Linked DNA regions of Homo sapiens: all the other regions are reported to be linked to region 3. Evidence: microRNA targets listed by miRTarBase, many of them from high-throughput screens and not tested one by one. Region 3 holds a microRNA gene; each other region holds the end of a gene's coding sequence. Distances are from middle to middle.

Region 1 (4,094 bases), not on the chromosome of region 3:
GGCAGGCGGATCACTTGAGACCAGGAGTTCAAGACCAGCCTGGCCAACATGGTGAAACCCTGTCTCTACTAAAAATACAAAAATTAGCCCAGCTTGGTGGCACACGCCTGTAATCCCAGCTACTCGGGAGTCTGAGGCATGAAATCGCTTGAAACCTGTGAGGCAGAGGTTGCAATGAGCTGAGATTGTGCCATTGCACCCCAGGCTGGGTGACACAGCGAAACTCTGTCTCAAAAAAACAAAAAGAAAGAAATGGGAATGTGAATTTCTAGAGTGGGATTTGGGCTTGAGACGCAGGAAGGAGTTACCCCGGCATGGATGGTTGTGAAGAAATAGAAACAAAGGGAACCTCGATGTAAATGAAAACCAAACCGAAACCAAAAAGGTTGTTGAGTAATAAGTTGAGTTCTTTTGACTTGACTACAAAGTTTCAAAATGGGCTTTACCATCTCACTGTTCCAACTGGAGTCTATAGGAGTTCCTAGTGCTCCGCCACCTTGCCAACACTTGGTATTCTCAGATTTAATTGTTGTTTTTCTAGGAGTATAATGGCATCAATCTTGGTTTACATTTGCATTTTTCCAGTTACTAATGATGTTGAGTACCTTTACATGTGTTGAGTAACCATTTGGATTTCCTGTGTTGTGAAGTGCTTGTTCAAGTGTTTTTGCCAATTTTTCATGTTTTTTTCTTATTCGTTTGTAGGAACTCTTTATACATTTTGTTGCGTGTGTTGAGGGGAGTGGCGGGGGTGTTGAGACAGAGTCTCACTCTGTTGCCCAGACTGGAGTGCGGTGGTGCAATCTCGGCTCACTGCAGTCTCTGCCTCCTGGGTTGAAGCAATTCTCCTGCCTCAGCCTCCTGAATAGCTGAGGCTATGGGCATGCACCACAATGCCTGGCTGATTTTTATATTTTTAGTTGAGATGAGGTTTCGCCACGTTGGGCAGGCTGCTCTTGAACTCCCAACGTGAAGTGGTCCACCAGCCTTGGCCTCCCAAAATGCTGGGATTACAGGTGAACCACCGTGCCCGGTTTGTTTTGAGGAAGGGTCTCCCTCTCTCACCCAGGCTGGAGTGCAGTGGTACGATCATAGCTCACTGCAGCGTCAACCTGCCCATCTCAAGTGACCCTCACACTTCCGCCTCCGAAGAGCTGAGATTACAGGCGCACACTACCATGCCTGGCTAATTTTTTTCTTTTCTTTTCTTTTCTTTTCTTTGAGACAGAGTCTCGCTCTGTCACCCAGGCTGGAGTGCAGTGGCAGGATCTCAGCTCACTGAAACCTCTGTGTCCCAGGTTCAAGAGATTCTCCTGCCTCAGCCTTCCAAGTAGCTGGGATTACAGACATGCACCACCACGTCCAGCTAATTTTTGTATTTTTAGTAGAGACAGGGTTTCACCATGTTGGCCAGGCTGGTCTTGAACTCCTGACCTCAGGTGACCTGCCCGCCTTGGCCTCCCAAAGTGCTAGGATTACAGGCGTGAGCCACCCCACCCAACCTTGTTTAGTGTTTTAACGGAGGTTTCATTACATGGGCATATTAGACAAATCATTGACCATTGGTCATTGACCTCAACCTTCAGCCCCTCTCTTCCCAGAGGTTGGTAGGTATGGGTGGGGCTGAAATTCCCAACTGTCTAATTCGGTCTTGGTATTTCTAGTGACCAACCCCCTTCCTGAAGCTACGCAGGGGCCCATCACAGATGGCTTCATTAGGACAAAGACTGCTCCTATTAATACCCAGGAGATTCCAAGGGATTGAGGAACTCTGTCAGGGCTAAGGGCAAATATTATTTTTATTATGCACTTCGCTAAATTATTTCAGTGGGTTCCGAGGCCCAGGATGCAGGCACCTTCCTTCAGCAAGGACTGTTTGCTTCCCTCATGCAGAAATGGTTGACGATAAACGCAGAGCTTAAGATTTCTTGGATGGCCAGTGATGTGAATTTGATCTGAAAATCTGAAGGGTTTCTTCCCTTGTCTTTCCTTCGCTCCCTGCACTGCTAGAGGTAGAGAGGAGTGCAGACTTTTGGTTCCTTTTCTCCCTTAGCTTGGGAGATTGTCACTGGAGGCAAGGGCTCAAGGAAGGGTCAGACCCCTTTCAGAGGCTGAGCCGTTTCAACCTCAGCTGTTTTATTAGAATAGGCAAATTCTTTCAGGACAAAAGCAGCCTTTGAGTTTTCCACTCTCCTATGGGTCAGAACTTGTAGATTTTTATTGTAAATGTATTTTACTTTTTGTAGAGATGGGATCTCACTGTGTTGCCCACGTTCGTCTTTAACTCCTGGCCTCAAGTGATCCTTTCACCTCCTAAAGTTGGGATTACAGGCGTGAGCCATTGCGCCTGGCCTATTTTTAATTTTTTTAAAATTAATGAGACATTGGTCTAAATAACCTAAACGCATTAATAGAATGGGAAGTTTCCCCACCCCCTGGTGTGCACACCCAGGTTAATCCCTTCCCCTTGAGGGCAGAAACTAAGACTAAGCTGGGATCTTACCCCTGTGATTTAGTCATTATCACTTAAGTATCTGGATGGGCCTGACCTAATCCGGTGAGCACCTCAAAGGGAATGGGCCCTTAAATCAGACCTGCCAGGGCCCAAGGAGGGGCAGCTTCTTGGAGCTAAGACCCTAGTTCTACGAGGACTGAAATCAGCCAACAACCATGAGCATGGAAGAGGACCCAGACTAAGGAACACCAACAACCAATACCTCAATTTTAGCCTGCAAAGCACTGAGCAGAGACTAGCTCAGCCGTGTCCAGACTTCCAACACAAAGTCTGAAGTGGGTGTTGTTTTAAGCCGCTGGCTTTGTGATCTGTTGTGCAGAAATACATGTGGGAACAGGCTTTGCTGCCCACAAGGGAAAAACCAATCTTTAGCACAAAGCAGGATCAGATGATTCAAGGGGACCGAACCTTGGCCCAGTCCAGAACCAGACAGACGAGGCGAGCCTCATGCCAGACTGCTGGCACCTGGCCGTCCTGAGCAGGAACACCACTGCCACACCAACGTGGCCATTATTCTAGAGGGAGAAGTATAGGGCAGTGCCGCTCAGGCCACCAGGAGCAGCTCCAGGTCCTCGCCCCATTTTAGATTGGAAATCTGACTCCAAAGAGGGGTTGTGACCGCTCTACCTCCACAGAACAAAGAGGTGGACCCAAACCTCAAACAGCAAGGCTGGTGAGCTAGATGGACCCACTGCTGCAGTCCATGAGGCTTTACAAGGACCCAGGGCCTGTGCAGGGGAGCCAAACTCCCAGAGCCACATGGCACCATGCAGCGGTCCTGGGGCATCTGTGAGACACAGAAGCTGCTTTTCCAACTTTATTTAGAAAAACAAATCCAGGTCCCAGTGCCCCCTGTACCCTCCCCGACCCCAGCCATAATTTAAATAACTTAGAGACAGAGTTGGAGGGAGGGGACAGGAGAGGTTGGGGTCACGGTGGAAGGAGGAAGAGAGCCCACTACAGCCGCCGCAGCGCCCGCTTCTTGTCCGTCTTTTTCTTGGCCGCCAGCTTCTTATCGCGCTCGCCAGCATGCTTCTTGGCCATGGGACCCTCAGCCCCTCCCGGGCCCCCTGGGGCCCCAGGGTCGGTGGAGGAAGCTTCAGTGCCACTGGCCAGGGCCCGACCGGCTTCGGCCCTGCCGCTGGGCCCGCCGGCGCCCCCGTGGATCTCTGTGAGCAGACGGGCCCGAGCCGCATACTCCTCGTAGTTCTCCAAGAGCAGGCGGCCCGCCTCCTCGTTGAGTGCAGACTCGGGGTTAGGGTGGATCAGCAGGCACTTGATGGTCTGTGGGAAGAGGCTCAGGGTCACAGTGGGTCGGGCAACCTACAGGGACCCCCAGGCCTCCACAAGAGGGTGGCCTCCGCACTGGCTGTTCCTTCTGCTCCCAACTCAGCTGCAGATCCAGGCCCCACCTATGCTGCATCCTCCCTCATCTTTGCTCCTGTCTCCCTCAGAGGCCACCTTCATGTGACCTGCCTCACAGCAGATGTTCCCAAAAGGACACGATGCCATAGGCCCAATGGTTTAAAATGTCCCTGGTCCTCCGTGGAACTTGCTGGGTAACGGGGGAAACGCCAAG
Region 2 (4,083 bases), 150 Mb from region 3:
GATTGAATATCAGTGATCCAGGCTCCGATTCCCCCAGCTGCACTGAATGAGATTGATGGAATCTTTCTTTTTAGGAGTGGAAGTATTATCCACTTCATGGGAGGAGCAACGAGCATCTCATGAAACTCTGTTCTGTACGAAGCCCTTGCATCAAGTGTTTGCCTCATTTACAAGAAAAGGAGAAAAGTTGGATATGAGTCTGGTCTCCTAATAGATTGTTTTCACTGCACTGGGAGCACATCAGAGGTAAGTAACCAGTACTGAAGACAGTACCAGGTGGGTAGTACTGTCTGATGAAGGGTACATCACCCTTCTGATGAAAACAGACACCTACCTGTTCATCTGGATGGAAGAGCAGGTTTGAGTATAGACACTGGCATTTTTGAACAATTCCCATGATCACCTGGTCCCTTCTTAAAATGCTCAAGATGTTTTTTAAAGGTATTAGTTGATCATACATTTTAGTTGAAAATCATTTGTGGGGCAATAAAAGCCATTTTTTGAAAAAGGTGTATCACTCAAGAAGTACTTATGGAAAAATATCAAATTATTGAGGGCATTAACTCTGGGAAAGACCAGGCAATTAAGTTGTCACAGTAACTGCTACTAATTTAATGCCAGGAATAGAGATGCCAAAAATCCTAAAATTTTCAGAAAGGGCTCTCACAGAAATGTAGCACTCCACTCAAACTGCAATAGCTTGATTCTGTTGAGAAACACTGATCTAAATAAATGGAAAAATAACCCACATTCACTAATGAAGATAATAAGGAAGACCCAATATTTTTTTTTTTTTAAAAGGAAAGTATTTTTAGCTTTTATGAAAGCTTTAAGTAATTTTTCCTCATTTTCCTGTTTGAAACTTTTGAAAAGGAAGTTCTTCAGTGTTTGTTTGGTTAGGCGCAGTGTATTCTAGGCCACTGCTTTATAAATATGGTGTGAGAAAGCAGTAGGATAAAATAATCAGAGTTCAGTGTGTCTCATATTTTGTTTCCTAAAAGTTTAGTAGAGCTGTGAATGTACTAGGAAGTCCCCTCTGAAAAAGCACAGTTAGTTAGTTAGAAATCTGCCCATTAACTCAGGGGGACTCAGGCGCCCCCCGGGTCTTCCCTCTCCTGCAGGCTCTCCGGTTAGTGTCCTGATTTGCCGTAACCACGGGCCTCTGACCTGCTGGCACCTCTGGTTCCTTGGCGTGTGGGTCACTCACAGATATGAAAACCTGTGTCTGGCTGACCAGGTTCTCCTGTAGCCCTCCCTTGCCCAGGCACAGATAGGAGTCATGACTGGCCCAAGGCCACGTTCAGACTTAACCCTGCAATGGCCACGAAGTAACCTCCGTGTGGGAGAGCTCCAGGAACAGTGCAGGGGATTAAAGCCAGCTTGGAGTACCCTTTAGAAGAAAGTTTAAGAATAAAAGAGACAGGGCCAGGCAGCAGGCGTTCCGGGGTACAGTGAGCTATGATGAGACCTTCAAGCTCTTGCCTTCCAGGCCTGTGGTGGGGACCAGTGGCATGAGTCAGCAAAGTACCAGCACTCCTCAGATAAGTGATATTAACAGAATTTCCACAATCACTTTCAAGTTGAATAAAGCTTTTAATAAAACAGTCTTGTTCTTTATCAATACCTGTAAATTCTCTTAAAGCAGTAGCAAAGGCGACTGTAGCAAGAGCTCAAAAGGCAAGGCAATATCGGAAAGTGTATTTAACAGAAGATTAAAAATATAAATGTAGAAGATCTGTTTATATATTTTTCTTTCAGAAATAAATCCCCCCTCCCCTGCCAGGTGAAAGGAAATATTGCACTTTCTGTTCTCATGACTAAGGGGACAGGAGTTCCAGAAGAACCTTTCAAGATGATCAGGAACACCAGGACGAGGGCCGTCTCACCTCACTCGGACCACATGGAGACCTCCCTTCAAAATGGGAGCCATGTCCTGCCCCACCAAGCCCTGTCTGAAGTGGAGCTTCCCCGCCTGTGCTCCCTCCACAGTCCCGGAAAGCCCAGCGGCAAAGGCAGCTTTGTCCCAGCTCTGCCACCCTCCTGCTCACAGTGGTCAGGGCCCCTCAGGGGCAAGGACGGCAGGGATTGGAACGAGGGCTCTGGAAGGACTGTTCAGCCCTATGCCTAAGACCCCTATGCTGGGGACACTACAGGCACACACAGGAATAGCAGGGCCACCCTCAGAGCTCACACATCCACGAACAAATGAAGGCTGAGGAGGTTTCTAAACCTAAAGTCCATGAGTGTGCACTTCAATCCAGGAAGGTCGGGACTTCCTTCAGTTTCAAAAAATAAATTCTCCCTTCCGGTTTGGACTGTTGCAGGCTCGAGGCCATTCAGGAGTTGTCCACCACCTGGTGGGGCAGTGTGACAGAGGGGCCATTGGGGAAGGTGGCTAGCTTATCCCGCCCCTTCAAGAAGAAGGTCAGCAGCTCCCCCTTCCCCTTCACAAAGATGGGGCCTCGCCTCACAAAGCGGAAGCCGTACTCTCGGAGGATGACTTGGGTTTCTTCTACCACCTGGAGAGGGAGGGGGAGCAAGAACGTGGCGTTACGGGGGGAGCCTAGACTGAGGGCGGGTGGGGGCTTTGGGTGGTTGGAGCCGAGCACTGATCCATGGGTCCCAAGCAGTACGGGACACTCCCCAAACCTCCCAGGGCCAAGCCCTTCCACCCGTGGCGAGCAGCGGGTGGGAAGGAGAACCCTGGAGTGACTGGCTGGGGGCCTCCTCTCATCCAGAGACTTCTCTCCTAGGATGGCCATGGTCACCTGGGTGGCAGCACTGTTACCTGGAAACTGCCACTGCCTGCTCTTCTGTCCCTTTGCCCCTTTCGTGGAGCTTTTCTGCCAGACGCCACTGAGACAGATCACAAGGTATTAGAAGGTTCATACCCAAAGGTAGGCCATATGCATCTAGAACTTCAGCCCAGATTTTGTGGATGGGTGGAAGTGTTTCTTCCTGTGCTGAGGCTAGCTATTGCAGAGATTCTTTTCCACTTGCCCCACGTCTCTGCCTCTGGACTTACTGTTCAGGGCCAGGGTGGGAGGCAGGGGCACGTGGGAAAGCACTGTTCCGGTTTTGTTCTCATGCCGAGTCTGAGCACGTGCCAGCTGTGCCACTGGACATACCTGAATGTTGCCCATGACCCCCGTGGACTCCATCCTGCTGGCTACATTGACTGTATTGCCCCAGATGTCGTAGTGTGGTTTCCGGGCTCCGATGACCCCAGCCAGAACCCCGCCTTTGTTCATGCCTAGGGTAGAGGCATAAAGTTCAGCACAGCCACAGGCCACACCTTGTTATGGGCCTCAGAAGCCATCTCCTCTCCAGACCTGTACCACAAAGCTCCTAATGTAACACATCATTGTCCTCATTCAACTTGGCTGTATGCTATTGGAGGGTGGAAATCACATCTCCTGTTTATCCGTGTGCTTGTTAGGTGTCAGCCGCCACCCCCCCCCCATATGCAGATTTACTCGGCATGGTAGTGGCCAGCTTCTAACACAGCTGGTATTTCAAGTCTCCTGGGACCTCACTCAGGAATGATACCCCCTCAGTAGAAGCAGCAGGTGATCTTAACTCCTTTCAAAGAGCAGGCCTGTCTGGGAAGCCATGTCCTCAGCAGGCACAGCAACCCCTCTGGAAATGGATCACAAACTCACTTCTCAGCCAGGCAGGCCAAGCTTCTATTGTAACAGTAGGCACAGTATAGTCGGATCATCACATCAGCTGGGTTTTTGGTTTAGTCATCTAGAGTCGTCTGGACTAAAGGTCTTTCAGGTCTCCTTGCCCTGTGAGTGCGTGAACCTCCCCACCCGAATTGCCTCAGTTGTCCTGAGCCTCATGTCTCTCCTGGTGGTGGGCCAGGCCCCTGCATGGGAAGGGAGCCTGCTGCGGGGCAGGCCAGCTGGGGGTGCTCACCTATGCGCAGCATGAAGTTATTGAAGGACTGGTTGTTGATGTTGGTGAGCGTATCCTTCATGGCCAGCGCGAAGTCGGCCAGGTCAGCCAGGTGCTGCCAGCGCTCTCTCTCGGACTTGTCTTCCTGTGCCAGGGGACCGTGGAGAAAGTGTCAGGGGCCGC
Region 3 (4,094 bases):
CAGGAGAATCACTTGAACCTGGGAGGCAGAGGTTGTGGTGAGCCAGAATTGTGCCACTGCACTCCAGCCTGGGCAACAGAGCAAGACTCCGTGTCAAAAAAAAAAAAAAGTTATCAACATAAACAAATTCTCATAGCAGAATCAAGAAAATTCAAATACAGGAAACTGAATCAACTTTAAAGAAAGAGAATCATTATTAAAGAGTGTAAGAAAAGCAGAGAGCAGCAGATTCTATAATTTTTATTACAAAAAAAACCCTTTACATGCTATGACATTAAATGTCACTTATAAGGTCATTGCAAGCAAATCTTTTTAAAAAATATACATACTGTATATATTTACATTCAAGTTTGAATAATATTTGTCAAGATATAGTTCAGATTCTACTCTTTACCCATTCTGTGGATTTGTTCATCTAGTAACTAAACAGCGATTGTATCATCACTCAGGCACATAGAGAGGTAGAAACCGCTTTTTTAAAGAAAAAAAAACTGGAGTGCAAATGTGAAGATCACTGAAGCAGCTTAGCTACATCAAGGAGACCCTAACTAGCTTTGGTCATCTCAAAAAGCTGAATATATGTAGCCTTGTCCTTTAAATTAAAACCAGAAAAACTTTGGGCAGGTGCTCTTCTGAGCACATCAGAGTGCTGACAGAACTCAGCAACTAATGGTCTGCCACTCTGCAACGCGAATTGCACATGACTAAGTGAGGCAAAGATAGCAGCGGAGCTGGGCTGGCAGCTGGGCACCTTTTCCCTGATAAGACACAAATCATAACCAAACAAGTGGCTTACAAGACAGTCAATTAATATCTGGACATATAGTCTGGAACTCGGAAGCCAACTAAAGTACTTCATTTCCCAAGTGAAATCCCTATTCATTTTTGTTCTCCCACCTCCATCCCAAACTGAGCTCCTAAGTCTAGATAGGGATGGGGGTCGCCTGGGACTTCTGCAGGCCACAGTTTTTCGGCCCCAAGTACCGGCCTCACGAAGGCTCTTGGGACTGAGAAGGGCTGCCGGGGTTCTTGATAAACTTAGTGGGGGTTGTTCCAGAGAGGGGAAGTTGGAGGGGAGCCACAGGAATGGCCGTGGCCAGAAGCCCTTCTCGTTCCCTTTTCTTCTGTTTCATCCTGCGGTTCTGGAACCAGATTTTGACTTGCGTGTCATTCAGGTGCAAGCAGTTGGCTATCTCGATGCGCCGGGCTCGAGTTAAGTACTTATTGAAATGAAACTCTTTTTCCAGTTCTGTCAGTTGCTTGGTGCTGAAATTCGTGCGGATCGCGCTGGAGGGGCTAGCGGCCCCATACTCGGCGAGTTTGCCTGCAACGTAAAGACAGGGCGTCAGCCAGGCCTGAGGCCGGGGACAGAATGTGGGTGAGCAGTGGAGCTAGTTAGAATCAAAGTCCCAGCGCAGCCCTCCTGGGTCCCTAGGAACAGAATTTGTACCAGGAGAAGTTCCACGGAGAGCTCCTTCCTGAAATTTTCTCAATGCCTGGCACATTTTCCGAATCTGTACTCGAGGCAGACTCCATGGAATTCGCCCGGGAACGCGTCTCCTCCACAAAACCCAAACCGCTGTCTGGAAAGGCAGCGACACCACGCTCCCAGCGCATTTCCGCGGGGGAGGCTCCGTCCCCAACCCCAGGTGGCCCCATCCAAGGCCCGCGGACTTACCTTTCTTAGAGGCATTCCTCTTCACTTTCATCCACTCGAACGTGCTGAAGGCGGCAGGGAGGCCGGAGGCGGGAGAGACGGACTTGGGGTAGGTGCCTGGGGCCGGGGATGCGGTCTGGAAAGCACCAGGGTGGCCGTCGGCTGACGCTTTGAGACAAGCCGGAAAAGGGCCGGGTTCGCCGAAGGCCGCGTAATCCACCTGGCCGCTGAGGAGGAAAGAGCCGCCGCCCGAGAAGACGGCCGAGGTGGCGTAGTGGACGTGAGACCCGCCGTCGTCGGCCGCCCGCCCCAGCACGCCCGGGAAGTCGTACGCCGGCCCGGACCCCAGGAAGCCGTAGTCCGCGCCCCCAGCTGCCGCGGCAGGTGCGGCACCAGGTTCGTAGGCCCCCTCCAGGGTGCACTGCGCGTACTGGGGCGCGGCCGGAGGCGGTACGGACGGCCGCGCGGGGGCGGCCGGGGGCGAAGGCGAGGGTCGGGCGGCGGCCAGGGGCAGACAGCTGACGAAGGCGCCGTCGCCGTTGCCCAGAGGGAAGGCGGGCTGCAGAGCCACGGGCCGGGCGTCGGAGCGGCAGAACTTGGGTGCCAAGCTGAGCACGTCGCCGCCGACCCCGCCGCTGCTGCTGCATGACACGTACTCCAGGTAGGAGCTCATGGTTCGGGCCCCACCTTTCTGAGGGCGCAGGCCGGGGCCGGAGTACGGAGCCGGGCAGAGGCTGAGCAGGACTGCCGCCGTCTGCGCCGCTCCGCCAGCCCTCTCTACCCGAGCTGCCCTCTCCAACCCATGGCGAGTGAGCCGGAGGTAAATAGTGGCCTAATATACCGGCGGGGGCGGCCACGTGGCGCTGGCCGGCCAATGGGCGGCCTCTCCGCTCGGCCCGGTCGGCGCGCCGCTCCTCGCGCCTGCCCCGCAGCCAAGTTAGCCAAAGCAGCCCAGGGCCGCCGCCCAGCGCCCCCGAGCCCCGAGGAGAGCCGTCGCGACCGGGGGCTGCCTGGGCAAGGGCGGGGCGAGAGGGCAGAACGCCTGCTCTCGGACAGGTATTGGGCGAGGTGGGGGGAGAAAGGCAGGACTGGACGCTTGGGTGAGGGCCCGTGGATGCAGCGGGGCGAGCCGCTTCTGCTCTGGATCGTGGGGGGGGCTAGTCCCTCGAGGGCGGAGTGTGGGCGTCGCGGCATGGAAAAGGTTAAATGGGAGCGTGACGCGCGGCCGGTGGAGACTGCTCTTCGCCCACCTCCAGGACAGATAAAGTTATTCCTCTTCCCCTCTTCTGAGTCCTCTGCGCTTTCGGTTTGCTTGGCGCTGATGTTATCCCTCTTCTAAACCTAGAGCAGATGTTTGGTTTTTTCCTTTCTTCCCCCTTTCCTAGGACTCATGGAACTACATCTTATGCTGTGAGTGCTGTGTGCCTAGGGCGGGACAAAATTTTCACTTTTTGACTAGGCTTCCTTTTAACGTGACTTTGCAGCTTTCTTCTATCCCTCGCAATTTGTGGCGGCGTGATGAGGGCCAGTGTTGTAGTGCCAGATTTTGATAAAGTTTCTGCCTTGTGGGGTGGTTTAGCAGATTTTCCCCTCCGGCTGGGTTGTTGGAATAAAGAATCCAGAGTGGTGGTGGAACACTCCTTATGCTCCTTTCTGGGAGACTGGCACAGGCACCGGTGCGGCGCTTGCTTTCACTGAGGAGCTTGTCTGGAGGGCGCAAGGGCTTACCGGGGACGGGTGAGATCTCAGAGGTTTAGATGGACTTGTACCTCGAAGCAATTAGAGCTTCTGCTCCATCAGATAAGTGCTGCATCGTCTCTTGTGAGTGAAATCTGAGGGCTCACAATGTTAATGGGCTCACGTCTTTCCCTTGATAATATGGTTTTGTTTACTGAGTGTAGAGAGACGGGAAATAAAAGTGCAATTGCCACAGGAAATGAAGAGTAGAAAGGTTACAAAGACCAGCTTTACATTGACAAACTTTCCAACTTCCTTTAGTATTTCTTTTAATGTTCCCTTTTGAGGGGACTGTAGGAAAATTACAAATTAGATAAATAGAGGTTATTTACACACAGTAGTTATGAAAGAGGGTGGTTTCCTAAAACCCTGTGTGAATAAAGACTCTAAAGAGTCTACTCAGAGCTTATATCAAGTGCCCTTGAAAAGTTAATCTATTACAGCCTCTAAGTTATGGTAACCGAGGTTTTATCATTGTTTTACTGATTGACTTGTCATAAAAGAGCGATTGAGCTGTTGTTGCCTAAATTTCCACTCTGAGGAAGTCTTTAGAATAGGCGCCATCACAGCCCAGGGAGCCAGTTCCTTCCAGGGTTGTGGACTTGTGAATAAACAAAGCCCTACCAAAATGTGGACTACTGATGGACCCGAAGTTGCTGCAGGATGGGGGAGGGATGTCCCCAGGTTGAGGGGAGCCAGT

Evidence for each region. The annotated mature microRNA hsa-miR-7704 reads CGGGGUCGGCGGCGACGUG and lies in region 3 at 2,271-2,289, opposite strand. An mRNA with a match to its seed (bases 2 to 7 or 8) in the 3' UTR can be bound and repressed. Matches are read on the target gene's strand: a 7mer-m8 pairs with bases 2 to 8, a 7mer-A1 pairs with bases 2 to 7 and ends in A, and an 8mer does both.
Region 1: the mRNA of UBE2S is a reported target of hsa-miR-7704. Seed matches in the 3' UTR shown: 7mer-A1 at 3,441-3,447.
Region 2: the mRNA of CENPO is a reported target of hsa-miR-7704. Seed matches in the 3' UTR shown: 7mer-A1 at 3,222-3,228.

What each region holds. Positions count from the first base shown.
Region 1 is chr19:55,397,964-55,402,057 of GRCh38, forward strand. It overlaps UBE2S (ubiquitin conjugating enzyme E2 S), which reads right to left. Exons shown (of 4, transcript NM_014501.3): 4 at 1,782-3,799. The coding sequence ends at 3,473. It also overlaps a transcript of RPL28 not described here. Among named protein-coding and RNA genes, the nearest start is that of SNORD157, 2.6 kb to the right of the region's middle. RefSeq lists an enhancer at 410-509.
Region 2 is chr2:24,817,596-24,821,678 of GRCh38, forward strand. It overlaps CENPO (centromere protein O), which reads left to right. Exons shown (of 8, transcript NM_001322101.2): 7 at 75-246; 8 at 1,759-4,083. The coding sequence ends at 211. It overlaps ADCY3 (adenylate cyclase 3), which reads right to left. Exons shown (of 22, transcript NM_004036.5): 20 at 3,922-4,045; 21 at 3,129-3,253; 22 at 1,574-2,519. The coding sequence ends at 2,337. Among named protein-coding and RNA genes, the nearest start is that of CENPO, 26 kb to the left of the region's middle.
Region 3 is chr2:176,187,038-176,191,131 of GRCh38, reverse strand. MIR7704 (microRNA 7704) reads right to left here and starts at 2,289; the gene lies at 2,231-2,289. HOXD1 (homeobox D1) reads right to left here and starts at 2,464. Exons shown (of 2, transcript NM_024501.3): 1 at 1,679-2,464; 2 at 225-1,324. The coding sequence starts at 2,330. The coding sequence ends at 990. It overlaps HAGLR (HOXD antisense growth-associated long non-coding RNA), which reads left to right and starts at 2,174. Exons shown (of 3, transcript NR_033979.2): 1 at 2,174-2,318.